Homo sapiens: one gene and its partners. The protein of the gene in region 4 purifies or fractionates together with the protein of the main gene of each other region. This does not show direct contact. Each region holds a gene or a part of one and is shown on either strand. Other genes may lie near its edges.

Evidence for each region.
Region 1: the proteins of NUP85 (region 4) and RIC3 purify together in Homo sapiens (co-immunoprecipitation; one large-scale study listed by IntAct). This does not show direct contact.
Region 2: the proteins of NUP85 (region 4) and RABL6 fractionate together in Homo sapiens (co-fractionation; one large-scale study listed by BioGRID). This does not show direct contact.
Region 3: the proteins of NUP85 (region 4) and AHCTF1 purify together in Homo sapiens (pull-down; one study listed by IntAct). This does not show direct contact.
Region 5: the proteins of NUP85 (region 4) and SIGLECL1 purify together in Homo sapiens (co-immunoprecipitation; one large-scale study listed by IntAct). This does not show direct contact.

The regions. Positions count from the first base shown.
Region 1 is NC_000011.10:8,158,810-8,162,585, reverse strand, and holds part of RIC3 (protein RIC-3 isoform a precursor), read left to right. Parts: intron 1-3,776. UniProt on the Homo sapiens protein: Molecular chaperone which facilitates proper subunit assembly and surface trafficking of alpha-7 (CHRNA7) and alpha-8 (CHRNA8) nicotinic acetylcholine receptors.
Region 2 is NC_000009.12:136,831,682-136,835,457, reverse strand, and holds part of RABL6 (rab-like protein 6), read right to left. Parts: intron 3,738-3,776; coding exon 3,597-3,737; intron 3,197-3,596; coding exon of another isoform or gene 3,194-3,196; coding exon 3,088-3,193; intron 1,739-3,087; coding exon of another isoform or gene 1,499-1,738; exon of another isoform or gene 1,039-1,498; intron 1-1,038. UniProt on the Homo sapiens protein: May enhance cellular proliferation. May reduce growth inhibitory activity of CDKN2A.
Region 3 is NC_000001.11:246,925,330-246,929,105, forward strand, and holds part of AHCTF1 (protein ELYS), read right to left. Parts: intron 1-3,776. UniProt on the Homo sapiens protein: Required for the assembly of a functional nuclear pore complex (NPC) on the surface of chromosomes as nuclei form at the end of mitosis. May initiate NPC assembly by binding to chromatin and recruiting the Nup107-160 subcomplex of the NPC.
Region 4 is NC_000017.11:75,218,965-75,222,740, reverse strand, and holds part of NUP85 (nuclear pore complex protein Nup85), read right to left. Parts: intron 1-3,776. UniProt on the Homo sapiens protein: Essential component of the nuclear pore complex (NPC) that seems to be required for NPC assembly and maintenance. As part of the NPC Nup107-160 subcomplex plays a role in RNA export and in tethering NUP96/Nup98 and NUP153 to the nucleus.
Region 5 is NC_000019.10:51,249,610-51,253,954, reverse strand, and holds the start of SIGLECL1 (SIGLEC family-like protein 1), read right to left. Parts: upstream 2,876-4,345; 5' UTR 2,410-2,875; intron 1-2,409.

The DNA of each region.
Region 1 (3,776 bases), on a different chromosome or scaffold from region 4:
GACACCAGAGAAGTTGGCACGGGCCAAATTGTGAAGGTTTTTTTCTGTCATTCTTAAGGAGATTGGGTTTTATTCTAAAGGCAGATGAGGCATCATTGAGTGTGTAAGGAGAAGAGAAACATTTAACCTGGTTTTAGAAAGGACACCCTGGCAGCAGTGTAGACACTGCGTTGTGAGGATTTCTTCAGGGAGAAGATTGTTGTAGTCATCCAGTTGAGACATCATGAGCATCACCAAGTCATTGTCATTGGGTTCACCAGTTAGGGTGCTTGTGACAAGTGACAGAAAAGTCAGCTTGACTAAGACAGGGAATTTATTGACTTGTGTAAATGAAAAGACCCTGTGTTAGAAATGTCTTGCAGTATGGTTTGAACCAGAGACTCACAGTTGTCACACTGGGGCTCTAGCTCTTATTTTCTGTGTCCTTTTCACTCTGGGTTCGTTCTCAAGTTGGTTCTGTGCTCTGGCTGCCCTCTCAGGGTGGTAGCAATGGTTGCAACAGTTTCGGACATTACCTCCTCACATTCCATTGCCCGGAGAAAGTGAGTGTCTCATTTATAGCAACAGTTTCGGACATTACCTCCTCACATTCCATTGCCCGGAGAAAGTGAGTGTCTCATTTATAGCAACAGTTTCGGACATTACCTCCTCACATTCCATTGCCCGGAGAAAGTGAGTGTCTCATTTATAGCAACAGTTTCGGACATTACCTCCTCACATTCCATTGCCCGGAGAAAGTGGGAGTGTCTCATTTATATACGTGTGTGTGTAGAGCTGGCCTGGAACTCCTGGCCTCAAGTCATTGTCCCACCTCAGCCTCCTAACGTGCTGGGATTACAGCACTTTGCTGGGCACAGCTCCAGGCCTCTTTTCTTTTAAGTCCTCCATCACTCTCACCTTCCAGCCTCACTCCCAAGATTCTTTCCCAGAAGTTCCAGCAAACATATCCGTTCACGTTAATGGCTTGAATTAAGTTAACTTGTGGTGCTGTGGGTAGAAAGAATATACTGATGAATCCACTCTGGAGTTGAGAGGAGTTCCCAAAGGAAAATATGGATATTAGAGCAAGAGAGGTTATCAATGGATAGATTGGAGGGAAGAGAATAATTTTAAGAGACATTTTAAAATAGAATGGGAAAGTGAGGGAGAGGGAGACATCTGGATTATTCTCAGGTTTAGGTGAAGGGATAGATGTTGATTTCCTTTGCCAAAATAGGAATGGAGGAAAAGTAGATTAAAGGTGTGTGAAAAGAAAATAAAAACTTGGGACCCCAGTTCACTATGCCAAAAGGAAAAAATTAAGCTGAAAGCTGAGTCGTGCAAGAAACTGCCTTTCCTTTTGTTCCTAAGCAGGTAGCTACAGATAAAAAATTAAATATCTCTACAGGTAGCTACTCTATGTTCACCGTATCTTACGTGAAGTGCCGATTTACTGAGCACCAGATGAATACATAATTGACTATTCCTCTACCTGCTCCTTTTCTCTTGCAACATATAGATTACCATACCCTTCTTTCCCCTCCAGCTCACTTTTCCCCTTGAAATATTGAAGCCCTCAAAATCATCTTTGGAGAAAGGCACAGACCTCTCTCCTGGGCGTGTCCTTAACGTTGGCAAAATAAACTTCTAAATTGATTGAGGCCTGTCCCAGATACTTTTTGGTTTACAGGTGTAAGATGATTAATCCAGGAATTGGAAAAGTAGTATTATGTCCCTTTCTTCAGTCTTCTTTCCTGTGTTAACATCCCTAGCTCCCTCATCCGTTCCTGGTATGACCTAGGTGCAAGTGTTTGAACACAGCCCTCTCAGAAGAGGCTCTTAGAACTGCAAATAACAGCATATCTAAGACAGTTCATGAAAGAGCAATCTGTTGTTTCCCTGCACTCTTCTTCTTCTATACTTAATGCTTTCTGGGGATTGCTCTAGTTTTTAGCATTTTCCTTGCTGACTTTGCTGTATATTAGAATTCTGAGCCTTTTTTTCTTCTTTTTAATAGGAGCTGCTCATCTAGGTTTTGTTCATTTTCTACTGTTCACTTGATGTTTCGGAATGAAATGTAGGAATTTGTAGTTTTCCTTGTTGCATTTTATTTGTTTAAATTTGGCCAAGAATTCTAGCTCTTGAAATTTTTTCAGAGCATTCAATGTTTCATTCAATGTATCTGCTTACCATTTCTTAGCTGTGTGCCATTCTTGATTTTTAAAAAACTTTTTGTTAAAGACATTTTCAAACATAAGCAAAAGTTGAGAGAGTAGTAAAATGAATCCATATCATCCTGCTTCAGCAGCCATCAATACATGGTCAGTCTTGTGTCATGGGTATCCCCACCCACTTTTCCCCCCATTCACTGGATTATTTTGAAGCAAATCCTAGACATTGGATCATTTTTCATCCTTAAATGCTTCAGTATGCATCTCTAAAAACAGATTCTTATTAAAATGTAGCCACAATACCATTGTCACACCTAAAAAGTCAATACTTCCTTGATGTCATTAAATATCTAGTTGGTGTTCAAATTTTTCCCACCATGTTATAATTTTTCTTTTTTTCTTTCTTTTTTTACAATTTTACCTTTGATTATGATCAGCATGTTTTCTCTTTTTGTTTGTTTTTTCTCAGGCTGGAGTGTAGTGGCAGGATCTGAGTTCACTGCAACCTCTGCCTCCCAAGTTCAAGCAATTGTCCTGCCTCATCCTCCTGAGAAGCTGGGATTACAGGCATCCACCACCACGCCTGGCTAATTTTTTTTGTATTTTTAGTAGAGACGGAGTTTCACCATGTTGGCCAGGCTGGTATCGAACCCTTGACCTCAGATGATCTGCCTGCCTTGGCCTCCCAGAGTGCTGGAGTTACAGACATGAGCCACCATGCCCAGCCTCAGCATGTTTTCTTGATAGGTCAAATTATTTTTTTAAATGTCTTAGTCATTTAAAACTGCTTTTAGAGTCCCACCACTGTATTCATGGAAACGTTTTGTTTAGGGTCATTCAACCAGTTGGTTATTTGGTTGCTCTATTCCATCTTACTCTGTCACCCTGGTTTGCCTCCTTCCTCCTTCCCCACTTCAGTCTATTCTCAATATAGCTGCCAGATAGTATTATGTTGAAGCTTAAGTCAACTCACATCTCTCCCCTCCTCAAAACTCTACAGTGGCTTCCTGGCTTAGATGAAAAGATAGTCTATACATGACCCAAAAGGCCCTATGTAATTCTCTTCCCCATTTGCTTCTACTTTTCTATCTGTCTCACTTTGTTGTGGCCACACTGGCTTCCTCCTCACTGTTCCTTGAATATGCCAAGCATGTTCCCACTTCAGTGCCTTTGCATTTGCTGTTTCCCTTGTTTGAAATGCTCTTCTTTTGGATATCCATGTGCCTTTCCCTTCGTCTTCATGTTTTCTCTCAAACTGCATTTCCTGATGCCTTCTCTGGCCATTCCAGCTAAAATCTTAACTTCCAACACGGTCCTACCCCTTCTCCCTGTCTTATTTTTTCTCCTTAGTATTTATCATTATCTTGTTTATTGTCTCTTTTCCTACTTAGAAAGGAGGCTCTGTGGCCGAGCGCGGTGGCTCACGCCTGTAATCCCAGCACTTTGGGAGGCCAAGGCGGGTGGATCACAAGGTCAGGATTTCAAGACCAGCCTGGCCAACATGGTGAAACGCCGTCTCTACTAAAAATACAAAAATTCTCTGGGCATGGTGGCAGATGCCTGTAATCCCAGCTATTCGGGAGGCTGAGGCAGAGAATTGCTTGAACCCAGGAGGCGGAGGTTGCA
Region 2 (3,776 bases), on a different chromosome or scaffold from region 4:
CCCACACACGCACCTCTAAGAGTGAAGAAGCCGCACCTTCACCTGGGAAACAAAGCCCCTCTGCTCCCCGCCACGCACACCTCCTCTGGTGGCAGGACACATCCCCGGTGCACGCGTCGCCACCGTCCCACACCCACAAGCAGCTGGCTCTGGAGCAAACCACTGCCCTCCTGGCCTGGAACCCCAGGCTGGTCTGATGAGCTGCGGGTCCCTGTGGCTGCTCACTTTAGATTCAAATGAAATACAAACGCCGGAGCCTCACGAACTCCTGACCTCAGGTGATCCAGCTGCCTCAGCATCCAAAGTGCGAGGATGACAGTCGGGAGCCACCGTGCCCGGCCCCTTCTCTTTTTTTAAATAGAGATGGGGTCTCGCTATGTTGCCCAGACTGGTCTCTAATTCCTGGACTCAAGTGATCCTCCCAGCTTGGCCTCTGCTGAAATTACAGGCCTGAGCTACTTGCCTGGCCTCTCCTTTTTTTTTTTTTGAATCATCTTTTTCAGAGATTTTTTTTTTTTTTTTTTTTTTAGAACAGGGTCATGCTATATTATATTGCCCAGGCAGAAGATCTGGAACTCCTGGGCTCGAGCTGTCCTCCCACCTCTGCCTCCCTAACAGCTGGGATTATAGGCGTGAGCCACTGCGCCCAGCCTGGAGAGGTTTTTAAAATAAAAATGTGAGGCTGGGCGTGGTGGCTCACACCTGTAATCCCAGCACTTTGGGGGGGCCAAGGCGGGCAGATCACGAGGTCAAGAGATCGAGACCGTCCTGGCCAATATGGCAAAACCCCGTCCCTACTAAAAATACAAAAATTAGCCAGGCGTGGTGGCAGGCGCCTGTAATCCCAGCTACTTGGGAGGCTTAGGCAGGAGAATCGCTTGAACCCAGGAGGCAGAGGTTACAGTGAGGCAAGATTGCACCACCGTACTCCAGCCTGGACAGAGTGAGACTCCGTCTCCAAAAAAAAGAGTGTATTAAAGTCATTAAGGTCCCCAGGCTATAACAACAACAAAAAAATGTGATTTACAAAGAGAAATCTACAGACTTGTCAACCAAATGTAATGTGTGAACTCTGGATCCTACTCTGAATACTGACCAAATATCTGACGACTGGAAGAACTCTTTGGGAATTTTATTTTTTCAATTTGTTATTGTGGCTTATTTCTCCAAGAAAAACCTTCTGTGAGTTTAACATGCGGTATTACATTAGGTACTACGGTCAGGTTAAAAAAACAACTGATTTTTTTAGAGATGTGTTTGAAATATTTTTAGGTGACATAAAGAAGGCCTGAAATTTGCTTCCAGGCAATCCAGGGGCAAGACAAAGAGGAAACAGGGGTCCCGCTGCTGAGACAGGCGAGGACATCAGATCTGCTTGAACACATCCATAGCAAAAGGATAGTCACACACAGCTCAGCCCTACGCTTCCAGCTCAAGACTCTGTCCAGGGTCCCGTTCTCTCCCTGGGAGGCTTTGGAAGGGTTTGGAGGGCAAACCATTAGGGAATGGAGCAGCTGAGCAGTGGGGAGCTCTCTAAGGAGTAATCAACCCAGTGATGAGGGGACGGCTCTGCAGGAAGGAGGGGCCTCCCCAGCAGTGCCGGCACAGGACAAGTCTGACTGCCGCCTTCCTTCCAACCCAAACGTCCCCAGCAGCAGTCCCAGCCTGCAGGCATCCTCACTTCTTCTGACACCAGGACGACAGCACAGCCCCTTTCCTGGGCAAGCCTGACATCCTTCTGGAGAAAGACCAAGGCTGCTGCAGCTGCAGCTGGGCCCCAGGTCCCCCAGACCCAGTCGGGGCAGCCCAGGGCGAGGAGGTTCAGGTCCCCCAGACCCAGCTGGGGCAGCCCAGGGCGAGGAGGTTCAGGTCCCCAGACCCAGCTGGGGCAGCCCAGGGTGAGGAGATTCAGGTCCCCCAGACCCAGTCGGGGCAGCCCAGGGCGAGGAGGTTCAGGTCCCCCAGACCCAGGCGGGGCAGCCCAGGGCGAGGAGGTACAGGTCCCCCAGACCCAGCTGGGGCAGCCCAGGGCGAGGAGGTTCAGGTCCCCCAGACCCAGGCGGGGCAGCCCAGGCAAGGAGGTTCAGGTCCCCCAGACCCAGGCGGGGCAGCCCAGGGCGAGGAGGTTCAGGTCCCCCAGATCCAGCTGGGGCAGCCCAGGGCGAGGAGGTTCAGGTCCCCCAGACCCAGCTGGGGCAGCCCAGGGCGAGGAGGTTCAGGTCCCCCAGACCCAGCTGGGGCAGCCCAGGGCGAGGAGGTTCAGGTCCCCAGACCCAGGTGGGGCAGCCCAGGGCGAGGAGGTTCAGGTCCCCAGACCCAGGCGGGGCAGCCCAGGGCGAGGAGGTTCAGGTCCCCAGACCCAGGCGGGGCAGCCCAGGGCGAGGAGGTTCAGGTCCCCAGACCCAGCTGGGGCAGCCCAGGGCGAGGAGGTTCAGGTCCCCCAGACCCAGTCAGGGCAGCCCAGGGCGAGGAGGTTCAGGTCCCCCAGACCCAATCAGGGCAGCCCAGGGCGAGGAGGTTCAAGCCTCATCATTTGCTGGGCTACTTTGCAGCCACAGCTGGCCTGGCCCTTGTTTCTACAAAGGAAAGTGAGTTTAGTCCGTAGGCCAAAGTTGGTTCCTTGGTTTTGACACAAGCACCAGGGAAATGTGAGATGTGAACAGCGAGTACCTCGGTGACTCACGCCTGGCATCCCAGCACTTTGGGAGACAGGTGGGAGGATTGCCTGAGCCCCGGAGTTTGAGGCCGCAGTGAGCCATGATTGCGCCACTGCACTCCAGCCTGGGCCACACAGCAAGACCTTATCTCAACAAACAAAAACAACCAAAAACACTGGGGGAAACTGAGCAAGGGGTCCCCGCAGAGGTGGAGGGGCTCCTGGGACTGGGTCTAGCCCTCAGGACCCTGTACCCTCTGCCACCCAGAGCAGGCAGGTGCAGTAGAACGCTGGGCCCTTGCCAGCAGCCAATCTCCGAGCAGGTCCACAGCTTTCTCAGGGGTTAGGAGGGAGACCCGTTGCTACACAGGAGACACCTGGAAGGAGGTGAGAGACCAGCAGCCACTCCACCCCACGTGGTGAGTGCTTACCTGAAGCTGCAAAAATGGGATATTGAAGAACTTATGAAGGTACTTTAGGCCGAAGCTGTTCTTCATGGAAGACTCAGCATAGCGGAAGTAGGAGGAACCTGGAGGTCTGCTTTCAGAAAGGAAAAAAGATGCAAGAGAAAGACCCTTGCCCTGGTGCCAAGGATCACCCCTGGGCCCACAGCTGTGGGTCCGCACTGCCCTCCCTCCTCCTGCAGGCTCCTGAGGCCACAGGACCCTGCTGAGCCCTGCTAAGCAGCTAAGCCGAGTGCCCTTCTGCAGGTGACCCCACAGTGCCAGCACTTCACCCTGGCACACAGTTCCCCAGCACACAGTTCCCGGCCCTGCCATCGGGGAGACCCAGGCTTCAGTGAGCCCCACTCAGCGGCGAGACCCACATCCGCCGGGCCCCATGCTAACGTTAACCCCTCCCTGGGCCTCTGCCTCAGCACCCTCCCCCGCACACCGGAGCACCGGGCAGGGTCCCTCGGGAGCAGGGCCACCGCACCCACCTGTCCAGGTTGTCGATGAAGTCACGCACGTCGTCCGGCAGGATGACTCGGTGCTCGCCCATGTCCCGGTAGTTTCCCAGCACGCACACTGGCACGTGGGTGGGCACTTTTGGAAGCTCCCGGAGAATGTAATTGAAGGTCCTCGGAGAACAGGTGAGGACCTGGCTTAGTTTCAGCCCT
Region 3 (3,776 bases), on a different chromosome or scaffold from region 4:
CAAAAAGCATTTTTTGGAAAATGAAATATAGTAAATGTTCTATTTCTTAGGCTGGGTGAGTTTTGTTATGTTGTTTGAATGCAAAACAAAGATGATATAGAAGTACTAGCTCTAAGAGAATAAAGCCACAGTATTTAAACTGTGGCCAGACATGATGGCTTATGCCTGTACACCCAGCACTCTGGGAAGCTCAGGCGGAAGGATCTCTTAAGACCAGGAGTTGTAGGTTGCAGTAAGCTATGATCAGGCCACTGCACTCCAGCCTGGGCAAGATCCTGTTTCTAAAAATATAAAAAATAAACCTAATGTGGTTTGTATAACTGTCCCCTCCCAATCTCATACTGAAATGTGATCCCCAGTGTTGGAGGTGGGGCCTGGTAGGAGGTGTCTGGGTCATGGGAGAGGACCCCTCATGAATGGGTTGGTGTCCTCTCCACAGTAATGAATTCACATGAGATCTGGCTGTTTAAAGCCAGGCATGGTGGCTCCCAGCACTTTGGGAGGCTGAGGCAGGCAGACTGACTGAGCCCAGGAATTTGACACCAGCCTGGGCCACATGGCGAAATCTCATCTCTACGAAAAATAATTAGCCAGGTGTGGTGGCGCCTGCCTGTAGTCCCAGCTACTGGGATTGCTTGAGCCTGGGAGGTCAAGGTTGCAGTGAGCCATAACTGCACCAATGAATTCTAGCCTAGGCGACAGTGAGACCCTGTCTTTAAAAAAAAAAAAAAAAAAAAGGCCTGGTACCTCCTCACTCCCCACTCTCATCATGTGAGTATCCTGCTCTCCCTTTGCCTTCTGACATGATTGGAAGCTTCCTGACACCCTCACCAGAAGGTAGGCAGCTGCTGGTGTCATGCCTGCACAGCCTGCAGAACCATGAGGCAAAATAAACCTCTTTTCTTCATAAATTATCCAGTTTCACATATTCCTTTATAGCAACACAGGCTAACGTATTTCTAATTCAAACTTTGAATCCAGGTTCTAGCACTTAATAATACATGTAACATTGTGCTTTACTATATTCTGTCTTCCTCCCTTTCATATCCAAGCTTCTAGAAAAGAGGAGTACTTATTTCTCCAGACTTCATCATGGTGCCTAGCACAAAGGAGTTCAAAAAAATGTTTAATAAAGTTTTTCAAATTTAACAGCCTTTGAATCTATAGGGCAAAATTGGTTTTAAGACTTTTCCAATTTAAGCACACTACAGAGAACATCGAAACACTCTATTATTAGAAATAGGGGCCAGGCGCGGTGGCTCACACCTGTCATCCCAGCACTTCGGAAAGCTGAGGTGGGTGGATCACCTGAGGTCAGGAGTTCAAGACCAGCCTCACTAACAGGGTGAAATCCCGTCTCTACTAAATACAGAAAACTAACCAGGTGTGGTGGCGCATGCCTATAATCCCAGCTACTTTGGGAGGCTGAGGCAGGAGAATCACTTGAACCCGGGAGGCGGAGATTGCAGTCAGCCGACACTGCACCATTGCACTCCAGCCTGGGCAACAAGAGCGAAACCCCGTTTCAAAACAAACAAGTCTCAAAACAAACAAAAGTGTATGGCCGGGCCGCGGTGGCACACGCCTGTAATCCCAGCACTTTGGGAGGCTAAGGCGGGCGGATCACGAGGTCAGGAGATCGAGACCATCCTGGCTAACAAGGTGAAATCCCGTCTCTACTAAAAATACAGAAACAAAATTAGCAGGGCGTGGTGACGGGAACCTGTAGTCCCAGGTACCCGGGAGGCTGAGGAGGGAGAATGGCGTGAACCCGGGAGGCGGAGCTTGCAGTGAGCCAAGATCGTGCCACTGCACTCCAGCCTGGGCGACAGAGCGAGACTCTGTCTCAAAAAAAAAAAAAGAAAGAAATAGGCCAGGCACTGTGGCTCACACCTGTCATCTCAGCACTTTGGGAGGCCAAGGCGGGAGAATGGCTGAGGTCAGGAGTTGGTTAGAGACCAGTCTGGCCAACATGGTGAAACCCCGTCTCTACTAAAAACAAGAAATGTAGCAGCCAGCCACGGCTGCATACGCTTGTCATCCCGACTACTTGGGAAGCTGAGGCATGGGAATCGCTTGAACCGGGGAGGTGGAGGTAGCTGTGAGCTGAGATGGTGCCACTACACTCCAGCCTCAGCAACACAGCCTGACTGTCTCAAAAAGAAAAACTATATTATTAGAAAGAATATCTCATATAAAGGTATATGAAAACACAAACACACATGAAACACCTACGTTCAGTACTGTACAAAATTAAACAGAATCCCAGCCTTTTATGACATGCCAGCACTGGCAACCTATAAAAAGTAATTTACTAAGTTTCAATTCCTTTCCAAAGGCTAGATAGGCAGAGCAGGAACGTTCTACTGGCTTTGAATGAAGATACTGTTCATGGCCGGGCGCGGTAGCTCAAGCCTGTAATCCCAGTACTTTGGGAGGCCGAGGCTGGCGGATCACAAGGTCAAGAGACCCAGACCATCCTGGCCAACATGGTGAAACCCTGTCTCTACTAAAAATACAAAAATTAGCTGGGCGCGGTAGCGCGCTGTAGTCCCAGCTACTTGGGAGGCTGAGGCAGGAGAATCGCTTGAACCTGGGAGGCAGAGGTTGCAATAAGCCAAGATCACGCCACTGCACTCCAGCCTGGCGACAGAGCAAGACTCCGCCACCAAAAAATTAATTAATTAATTAAATTAAATACTGTTCGGCCGGGTGCGGTGGCTCACGCCTGTAATCCCAAGGCAGGTGGATCACGAGGTCAGGAGATCGAGACCATCCTGGCTAACACGGTGAAACCCCATCTCTACTAAAAATACAAAAAAAATTAGCCGGGCGTGGTGGTGGGCACCTGTAGTCCCAGCTACTGGGGAGGCTGAGGCAGGAGAATGGCATGAACCCGGGAGGCGGACCTGGCAGTGAGCCGACATCGCGCCACTGCACTGTAGCCTGGGCGACAGAGCGAGACTCCGTCTCAAAAAAAAAAAAAAAAAAAAATTACTTCTGCTTGCCTGTCTTCTCCACTACACTATGAATTCCTAAAAGGCAAAAATCACCAAATCTTATTCCTGGGCATTCGACAAGGTCACAGTGCCTTTGGACTAACAGGTCCTAAATGTAATAAATTAGGATAACAGGATACTGTATAGCAGGATATTATTAGGATACTAGCAGAGACAAGAAATAGGCATGTTAAACAATAAAATCAATTTTTTAAAACTCAAGATTGGGCCCAATTATTTTTAAGTATACACTGGTTCAGTATTAAACAAAACAAAATTCTTAAAATTACTAGGCCAGATACTAAAAACAGAATACTATAAATCAGTTTTCTGTGTGAAATACACAAATTCCTGCAGTAACTGAATTCCACCACAGAAAATGGAACTCTAATCTAGTTCAACAATTATATTGCAACATGTACCAAGCAAACATTTCTATAAACCACTTTGTATGCAATGGTACTTTTTTTCTTTTTGACTAATAAAAAGACGAATTGTCATTTAAATGTAAACTACCAGTGGACCCAGAAACTTCAAGCCTTTCAGAAATTTCTTACCAACTTAATTCAAACATTTTAAAATCACAAACTACTTTTAAAACACCGTGTTAGTAAAGGAATGCAAGGTCAAGAAGATAACCTTCTTCCTGACTTTAAGGAGTTTACAATCTAGAAAAGGAGATATATAGTCAATTATCAGAGTATCAGACACAAAGAATAAATGCTACTACAATAGAGGTACATATGCTGTGAGATCCCAGTAAAAAAGTGGGATAAG
Region 4 (3,776 bases):
ATGATTCAACAATATTATGTCAAGTAAGTTGTCTCCAAACAGATACACACATAAAACAAGTGATCGGTTATATATTGATTGGTTGAACAAAATATGACCAGAGGCTTGCAGGAACCTAACCCTGTATTTCCCCTAGGAGCAATGGTTCAATATTCACTAATTCAGTATTCAAGGCACTGCACTCCAGCCTGGGCAACAAGAGCAAAACTCTATCTCAAAAAAAAAAAAAAAAAAAAAAAAAAAAATCACAAATATATAAACATATACATACTGATAACTCCCAACTTTTCCTCTCTAGCCCAAACTTCCTTGTCTGAATTCCAGCTTTGTATATCCAAGTGCCTAGTCAACATCTCCACTTAGATCTTGAATAGGCATCTTAAAACGTAACATGTCGGACAGGCATGGTGCCTCACGCCTGTAATCCCAACACTTTGGGAAGCCAAGGAGGGTGGATTGCTTGGGCCCAGGAGTTTGAGACCAGCCTGGACAACATGGCAAAACCCCGTCTCCACTACAAATACAAAAATTAGTTGGACATGGTGGCACGCCTTTGTAGTCCTGGCTACTTGGGAGGCTTAGGAGGGGAGGATCACCTGAGCTTAGGCGGTCAAGGCTGCAGTGAGCTGTAATCTGACCACTGCACTCCAACATGGGCAACAGAGACTTTGTCTCAAAACAAACAAACAAACAAACAAAACAAAACACACACACACACGAGAGAAACATGTCTAAAATTAAATACCAGTTTGCCTCCAATTCACCAACCTTATCCTCCCACATTCTTCTATTTCTTGCATGCCCACATCAAATCAATCCATCAGCAAACCCCATCAACTCTCTTCAAACATATCTAGCCTACACCACCACCATCTTTTACCTGGCTTAGTACAGCAGAATCCAGACTGGCCTGTTTCCATCCTTGCTGTAGTCTCAACATGGCAGCCAGGACAGCCTTTGGGAACCTAAGTAAGATCTCAGGCTTCCTCTGCTCAGCTCTCCAATGCCCCCTCACCCCATATGGCTTAGAAGTAAAAGACTAGCTTTTACTGTGCATCAACCGTGTCAACTACTTCACCCACATTTATGTCCTTTAACTAATTTAATGATCACAACAGCCCCATGGGACAGGTATTATTATCTCCACTGGACAGATGAGGACCCTTAAGGCCGTTAAGTAGCTCACTCAAGATCTCACACCTAGTGACCGGGCACAGTGGCTCACACCTGTAATCCCAATACTTTGGGAGGCCAAGGCAACAGGACTGCTTGAGGCCAGGAGTTCAAAAAATAAAAAAATTTGGCTGGGCATGGTGGCTCAAGCCTGTAATCCCAGCACTTTGGGAGGCTGAGGCAGGCGGATCACTTGAGGTCAGGAGTTCGAGACCAGCCTGGCCAAAACAGCAAAACCCCATCTCTACTAAAAATAAAAAAATGAGCCAGGCAGGATGGCGAGAGCCTATAATCCCAGCTGAGATCGCCCCACTGCACTCTGGCCTGGGCAACAGAGTGAGACTCTGCCTCAAAAAATAAATAAATAAAAATAAAAAATAATTGGGTTAGCCGGGCGTGGCGGCTCACGCCTGTAAACCCACCACTTTGGGAGGCCAAGGCAGGCAGATCACAAGGTCAGATCGAGACCATCCTGGCTAACATGGTGAAATCCCGTCTCTACTAAACAAAATTAAAAAATTAGCCAGGCGTGGTGGCAGGCGCCCGTGGTCCCAGCTACTCGGGAGGCTGAGGCAGGAGAATGGCATGAACCCGGGAGGCGGAGCTTGCAGCGAGCCGAGATCGTGCCACTGCACTCCAGCCTGGGCAATAGAGCGAGACTCCAGCTAAAAAAAAAAAAAAAAAAAAAATTGGGATGGTGGGATGGAGGGAGGCAGGCAAATCACTTGAGGTCAGGAGTTCAAGACCAGCCTGACCAACATGATGAAACCCCATCTCTACTAAAAATACAAAAAACAAAACAAAACAAAACAAAAACCAGCTGGGCATCATGGCGTATACCTATAATCCCAGCTACTTGGTAGACTGAGACAGAACTGCTTGAACCAGGGAGGCAGAGGTTGCAGTGAACTGAGATAGCGCCACTGCACTCCAGCCTGGGCAACAGAGAAAGACGCCATCTCAAAAAATAAATAAATAAATAAAAACTTTAGCTGGTGGTGGTAACACATGTCTGTGGTCCCAGCTACTTGGGAGGCTAAAGTAGGAGGACCACTGGAGACCTGGAGGCCAAGGCTACAGTGACTGGTGATTGTGCACTGCAGCCTGGGGAACACAGTGAAACTGTATTTAAAAAAAAAAAAAAAGGCCAGGCATGGTGGCTCATGCTGGTAATCCCAGCACTTTGGGAGGCCAAGGTGGGTGAATCACAAGGTCAGGAGTTTGAGACCAGCCTGGCCAATATGGTAAAACCCCATCCCTACTAAAAATACAAAAATTAGCTGGGCATGGTGACGCGCGCCTGTAGTCCCAGCTACTCAGGAGGCTGAGGCAGAAGAATCACTTGAACCCCGGAGGCAGAGGTCGCAGTGAGCTGAGATGGCGCCACTGCACTCCAGCCTAGGTGACAGAGAGAGACTCTGTCTCAAAAAAGGAAAAAAACCCACCTCACAGCTAGTAAAAGGCAGAGCTGGAATGCTAACCCAGGCAGTGTGGCACCACAGACCATGTTGTTAGTCACCCTGCTATGTAGGCTGCAAAAAGCTAAAGTCTCAGTGACAGCCCAGGGGGCTGTCTCAGACCTGGCCTGGTATCGCTCTGTCTTTATCTCCCCAGCTCATCCCTCCCACCTACCCCTACATAGCACAGCCCCTCCTGCCCCACCCTGGCTCTAGAACACAGCATCTACAGGCCCTGCTATCTGGAATGCTTTCTTCAGCCTAGCTCTCCTCACCTCCTTCAGGTCTCACCTCCAATCTCTCATGAGGGAGGCCTTCTTCGATGCCCCTCCAGCACTTGCAGCCTCCCTCCCTTCTTGGCACCTTGGCAGAGCATTTCACTATGTGCCAGGATACATGGTACTAGCCTATGTGTTGCTGTTCTTTCTCCACACACAGGATATAAACTCCATAAAGGCAGGAATCTTTGCCTGTTTTAGTCATGGTGTCTCCTTGGTGCCTTGCAAATAGTAGGGACTCAATAAATACTCAGTGAATGACCAGGAATGGTGGCTCACACTTGCAGTTCCAACACTTTGGGAGGCCAAGGTGGAAGGATTGCTTGAGCCCAGGAGTTCAAGACCAGCCTGGGTAATACAGTGAAACCTCACCTCTACAAAAAATAAAACTAGCCAGGCGTAGTGGTGTGCGCCTGTAGTCCCAGCCACTCAGGAGGCTGAGGTGGGAGGATTGCTTGAGCCCAGGAAATCAAAGGTGCATTGTGCCATGATCGCATCACTGCACTCCCGCCCAGGCCGCAAAGCGAAACCCTGTCTCTAAACGACAACAACAAACCTTAGCGAATCAATCAGAGACTCAAACATTTGGCCCACTACTTCCTGTGAGCCACCGTGCCGGGCCGAATTCCAGGTTTTCTTTTCTTTTCTTTTTTTTTGTCCTCACAATCTGTTCCCAATTTCAGGCTTTATAAGTTTAGTTGACTTTCCATTAGCCCAGTCAACTAGCGATCTCCTCCCTGCCACCTCCCAATTGGGTCAGTCAGCAGAGGTGAATGGAAATACCTAACACATAGAAAATACATCCATATACACATATACGACATGCTGACTTCGAAACTGATGATCCAAAGTAATGTGCAAGCTCATT
Region 5 (4,345 bases), on a different chromosome or scaffold from region 4:
CATTTACAACTCTAGAGACGTAGAAATTTTATCTTTTATCTTAGTCTCAACAACTCTGTGAGGTACATCTCATTATCAACACTTCCAAAAGGAAGGCAGAGATCCACAAAAGTACTATGACTGGCCCCAAGACATGCAGCCGTTACGTTCATAGATTTCAGACTCAACCTTTGACTACAACTGTGGTGTCTTTTTCATGATTCTATTTTGCCTTAAAAACTGCTGTATAAGCATGGTGAAGTTCATTCTCCTCTCCAAATTCACTTCCTCATGAATAAAATATAAGAATAAATCAGCTAGCCCTGATGTGACACACAGTATACTTAGATTTTTCCTGGAAGTGGACCAGAAGTCAGAAGACCTAATCTTTGTCGCTACTTCCTGGGTGATTCTGGGTAAGTCACTTCCCTCACTGTCAGCCTGCTTCAGAGACTAAAAACAATCATAAATGAATTTTGTTTGGCCTACAAATGCTTACTTTTTAAAACTAACTTTTAAAATGGGATAACATTTAATAATCAGAGCACTTCACAAAAAATTCAAACAACCAGCTTCTCTCTCTCTCTTTTTTTTAAATTTTAAATTCAAGTCAAACTGCCTAGATATGAAGGTTAGCTGTTTTATAGTGTGCAAGTAGCTTCACCTCTCTCTAGGCCTACTTGCTCATTTTAAAAACATGGATAATAATAGCACCCATCTTAGAGTTGTTGTTAAGATTAAATGAGTCAGTAGAACAGAACCTCACATTTGGTAAGCAATCAAAAAATGTTAGTTACTATGTATTAGGTTCCCTGCTTAGCTCCTATCAGCATTTAACTTGGAACCACTTTTTTTTTGTTTTTTTTTAACACAGGGTCTGGAGTGCAGTGGCATGAACATGGCTCACTGCAGCCTCGACTTTCCAGGCTCAAGTGATCCTCCCACCTCAGCCTCCAGAGTAGCTGGGACTATAAGCACAAGCCACCAGGTCCAGCTAATGAAAAAATTTTTTTTGTAGAGACAGAGTCTCACTATGTTACCCAGGCTGGTCTCGAACTCCTGGGCTCAAGCAGTCTTCTCACCTCAGCCTCCCAAAGTGCTGGGATTGCAGCCGTGAACCAACACACTCAGCCTGGGACCACTCTTGACCACCCCTAATCCCTTCCCAGAGTTCTGGAACCAGCCCTGTCCTTTCCTATTCCATATTTCGGCATGTTTTAACAGACCTCTCTGAGTGGTCTGTGCTCCCAACCCTTAGCCTCCAGACTGATTGCCCTTTTTCCTTCTCACATAAAAAAGATATCGCCCAAGTTTCCAGGTCGTTAAATGCCTCTCTCATTCACGCCACATATCCACTTTCTTTTTGCATTGTCAATTTTTTTTTCCTTCCCCTTTCTTCTGTTTAAAAGCCCATGTTAGATGGTCGGAATGAGCCTTGTCTAGGTCCTGGGCCAGGATTTGCCAGTAAAGCACTGAATAACTGTGGTCAAGTATTTTCCCTCTTCTTATTTCCTCATGTGTAACATGAGTGGGTTTTACTGCTGGAGATGTAATGATCCATTTAAGTACAAAATTCTGATTTCTTCTTTCTTCTCTCCATCAGTTTTAGAGCATACATGTGATGACTCGTCATGCACCCATTATATTTTCTTTTTCTTTTCTTTTCTTTTTTTTTTTTTGAGACAGAGTCTCGCTGTGTTGCCCAGGCTGGAGTGCAGTGGCACGATCTTGGCTCACTGCAACCTCTGCCTACGGGGTTCAAGTGATTCTCCTGCCTCAGCCTCCCGAGTAGCTGGGACTACAGGCACGGGCCACGATGCCCATCTAATTTTTGTATTTTTGGAAGAGACGGGGTTTCACCATGTTGGCCAGGCTGGTCTTGAACTCCTGACCTCAAGTGATCCCCGGCCTCAGCCTCCCAAAGTGCTGGGATTACAGACGTGAGCCACTGCGCCCAGCCTATTTTCCTTGACCACCATGTCTCTCAATTTTCCTTCACCATCATGTCTCTCAATTTTCCTTCTGTCTCTTGTTCCAAAGGGCTCAGGATATTCTCTGTTCTCAGCACACTTCCATCTGTGTATTTCCTTAGCAGGGTGTGAGTGATGCAAAGGTGTTCGGCTTTCTAAGGGAAGGGCTGACTTACTAATGACTGACCTATTTATGGTGAGGAAAACGATTTTCTAGGGAAAGCCAGGATAACTAACAATGAAACTGATAGACACACATGGGATAACTGTGTGAGTAATGACTGGGTGCCTTGCAGGGGTGTAACTTACCAAGAGACCGACTTAGCGGGAGCCTAACTAACCAATGAACAGGGCAGGTTCTGAAGGGAGTGGATTTTCTCATGAACTGATTTTCAAAGGGACTAACCGTTGACTCATAAGGGCACTGACCTGATTGTGAACCCACGGGCCGCTTGCTTACCTTCTTGGTAGATGGATGTCGCCCCAGCTGCCCTCTGGCTGACCAGGTGACTGACGTGGTGGAGGCTGAGGAACGCTGGCTCCTGGCGAACTCCCTGACTATGCTTAATCTCACCGCCTGACTGTTCAGATTTAGCCTCTGTCTGACCAAAGGGCTCTCAGGGGCCTCACTGGCACGAGAGCCGCCCTGGTGGCCTAACCGACCTGCGGCTGCCCCACGGCCCAAGGATCCGCTGACTGACGCTGACTGGAAGCCCAGTTAGTGCAGTTTCAATGAAGGAACCCAACAACCGCCAACAACTGCCAGGGACCCAACAACCGCCAGAACCCAACAACTGCCAGGGACGCCAACAGGCCAGGCACAGCCTTATGCGACTAGGGATCCTCAGTCGGCTGCACAGAGATAGCGGCGTGAGGGGCGTGATAGCCGCTGCAAGACCTGCTAGCTCGCATCCTTAGGTGAGTGCATCCACCCGCAGCCAATCAGCGGCTGCATGGGCTTACTTTACACAGCCAATCAGAGGCTGCATGTGCTTATTTTACAACCAATGAGAGGCTGCATGGGCTTATGTTGCAGCCAATCAGAGGCTGCATGGGCTTATTTTATAGCCAATCAGAGGCTGCATGAGCTTTTTCTACAGCCAATCAATGAAGCAGAAGCATTGTGCCCACAGGCGTGTGCCCCTGGGAGCTGATGCACGGCTGCCAGAGTCAATCAGGAACTGCAACTGCAACTCCCTCCTCCAACCTTTGTGCCCAATTGGATCTTGAGGGCTTGAGCCAATCCGCAGCTGGGGGCGGTGCCAGGGTAGTTTGTGGGCCAATTTTCTTCCCAGCAAGGCCTTTCCAGCCCGTGCTGATGAAACCACACTCCTCTCCAACCCTGAGGACTCCGTTCCTCTTGTTTAACCCTGTTTATTTTTTCTCACACTTTATCCGTCACGCACTTTCTTACCCATTACACTTTCAAAATGACAGAGGCATTTGAGCCAGAGCAACTCCGTCTTGAATAGGAGCTGGGTAAAATGAGGCTGAGACCTGCTGGGCTGCATTCCCAGAGGGCTAAGGCATTCTAAGTTACAGGATGATATAGGCGGTCAGCACAAGATACAGGTCATAAAGACCTTGCTGATAAAACAGGTTGCAGTAAAGAAACCAGCCAAGGCTGGGCTCGGTGACTCACGCCTGTAATCCCAGCACTTTGGGAGGCTGAGGCGGGCGGATTACCTGAGGTCAGGAGTTTGAGACCAGCCTGCCAACATGGCGAAACCCTGTCTACTAAAAATACAAAAATTAGCTGGGCGTGGTGGCAGGCACCTGTAACCCCAGCTACTTGGGAGGTTGAGGCAGGAGAATCGCTTGAATCCGCGAGGTGGAAGTTGCAGTGAGCCGAGATTGCACCACTGCACTCCAGCCTGGGCAACAGAGTGAGACTCTGACTCAAAAGGAAAAAAAAAAAAAAGAAGCCAGCCAAATCCCACCAAAACCAAGATGACAATGAGAGTGACCTCTGGTAATCCTCACTGCTACACTCCTACCAGCACCATGACGGTTCACAAATGCCATGGCAACGTCAGGAAGTTACACTATATGGTCTAAAAAGGGGAGGCATGAATAATTCACCCTTTCTTTAGCATGTCATCAAGAAATAACCATAAAAATGGGCAACCAGCAGCCCTCGGGGCTGCTCTATGAAGTAATCATTCTTTTATTCTTTTACTTTCTTAATAAACTTGCTTCCACGTTACTCTATGGAATAGCCCTGAATTCTTTCTTGCAAGAGATACAAGAATCCTCTCTTGGGGTCTGGATCAGAACCCCTTTCCTGTAACAAAAACACTTTGTGCTAAATATCATTTGCTAATGGTATTTTTGTTTATGGTTTGACTGTGCCACTAGAATAGAAGCTCACTTTTTGGTTTTGTTTTATGGTACAT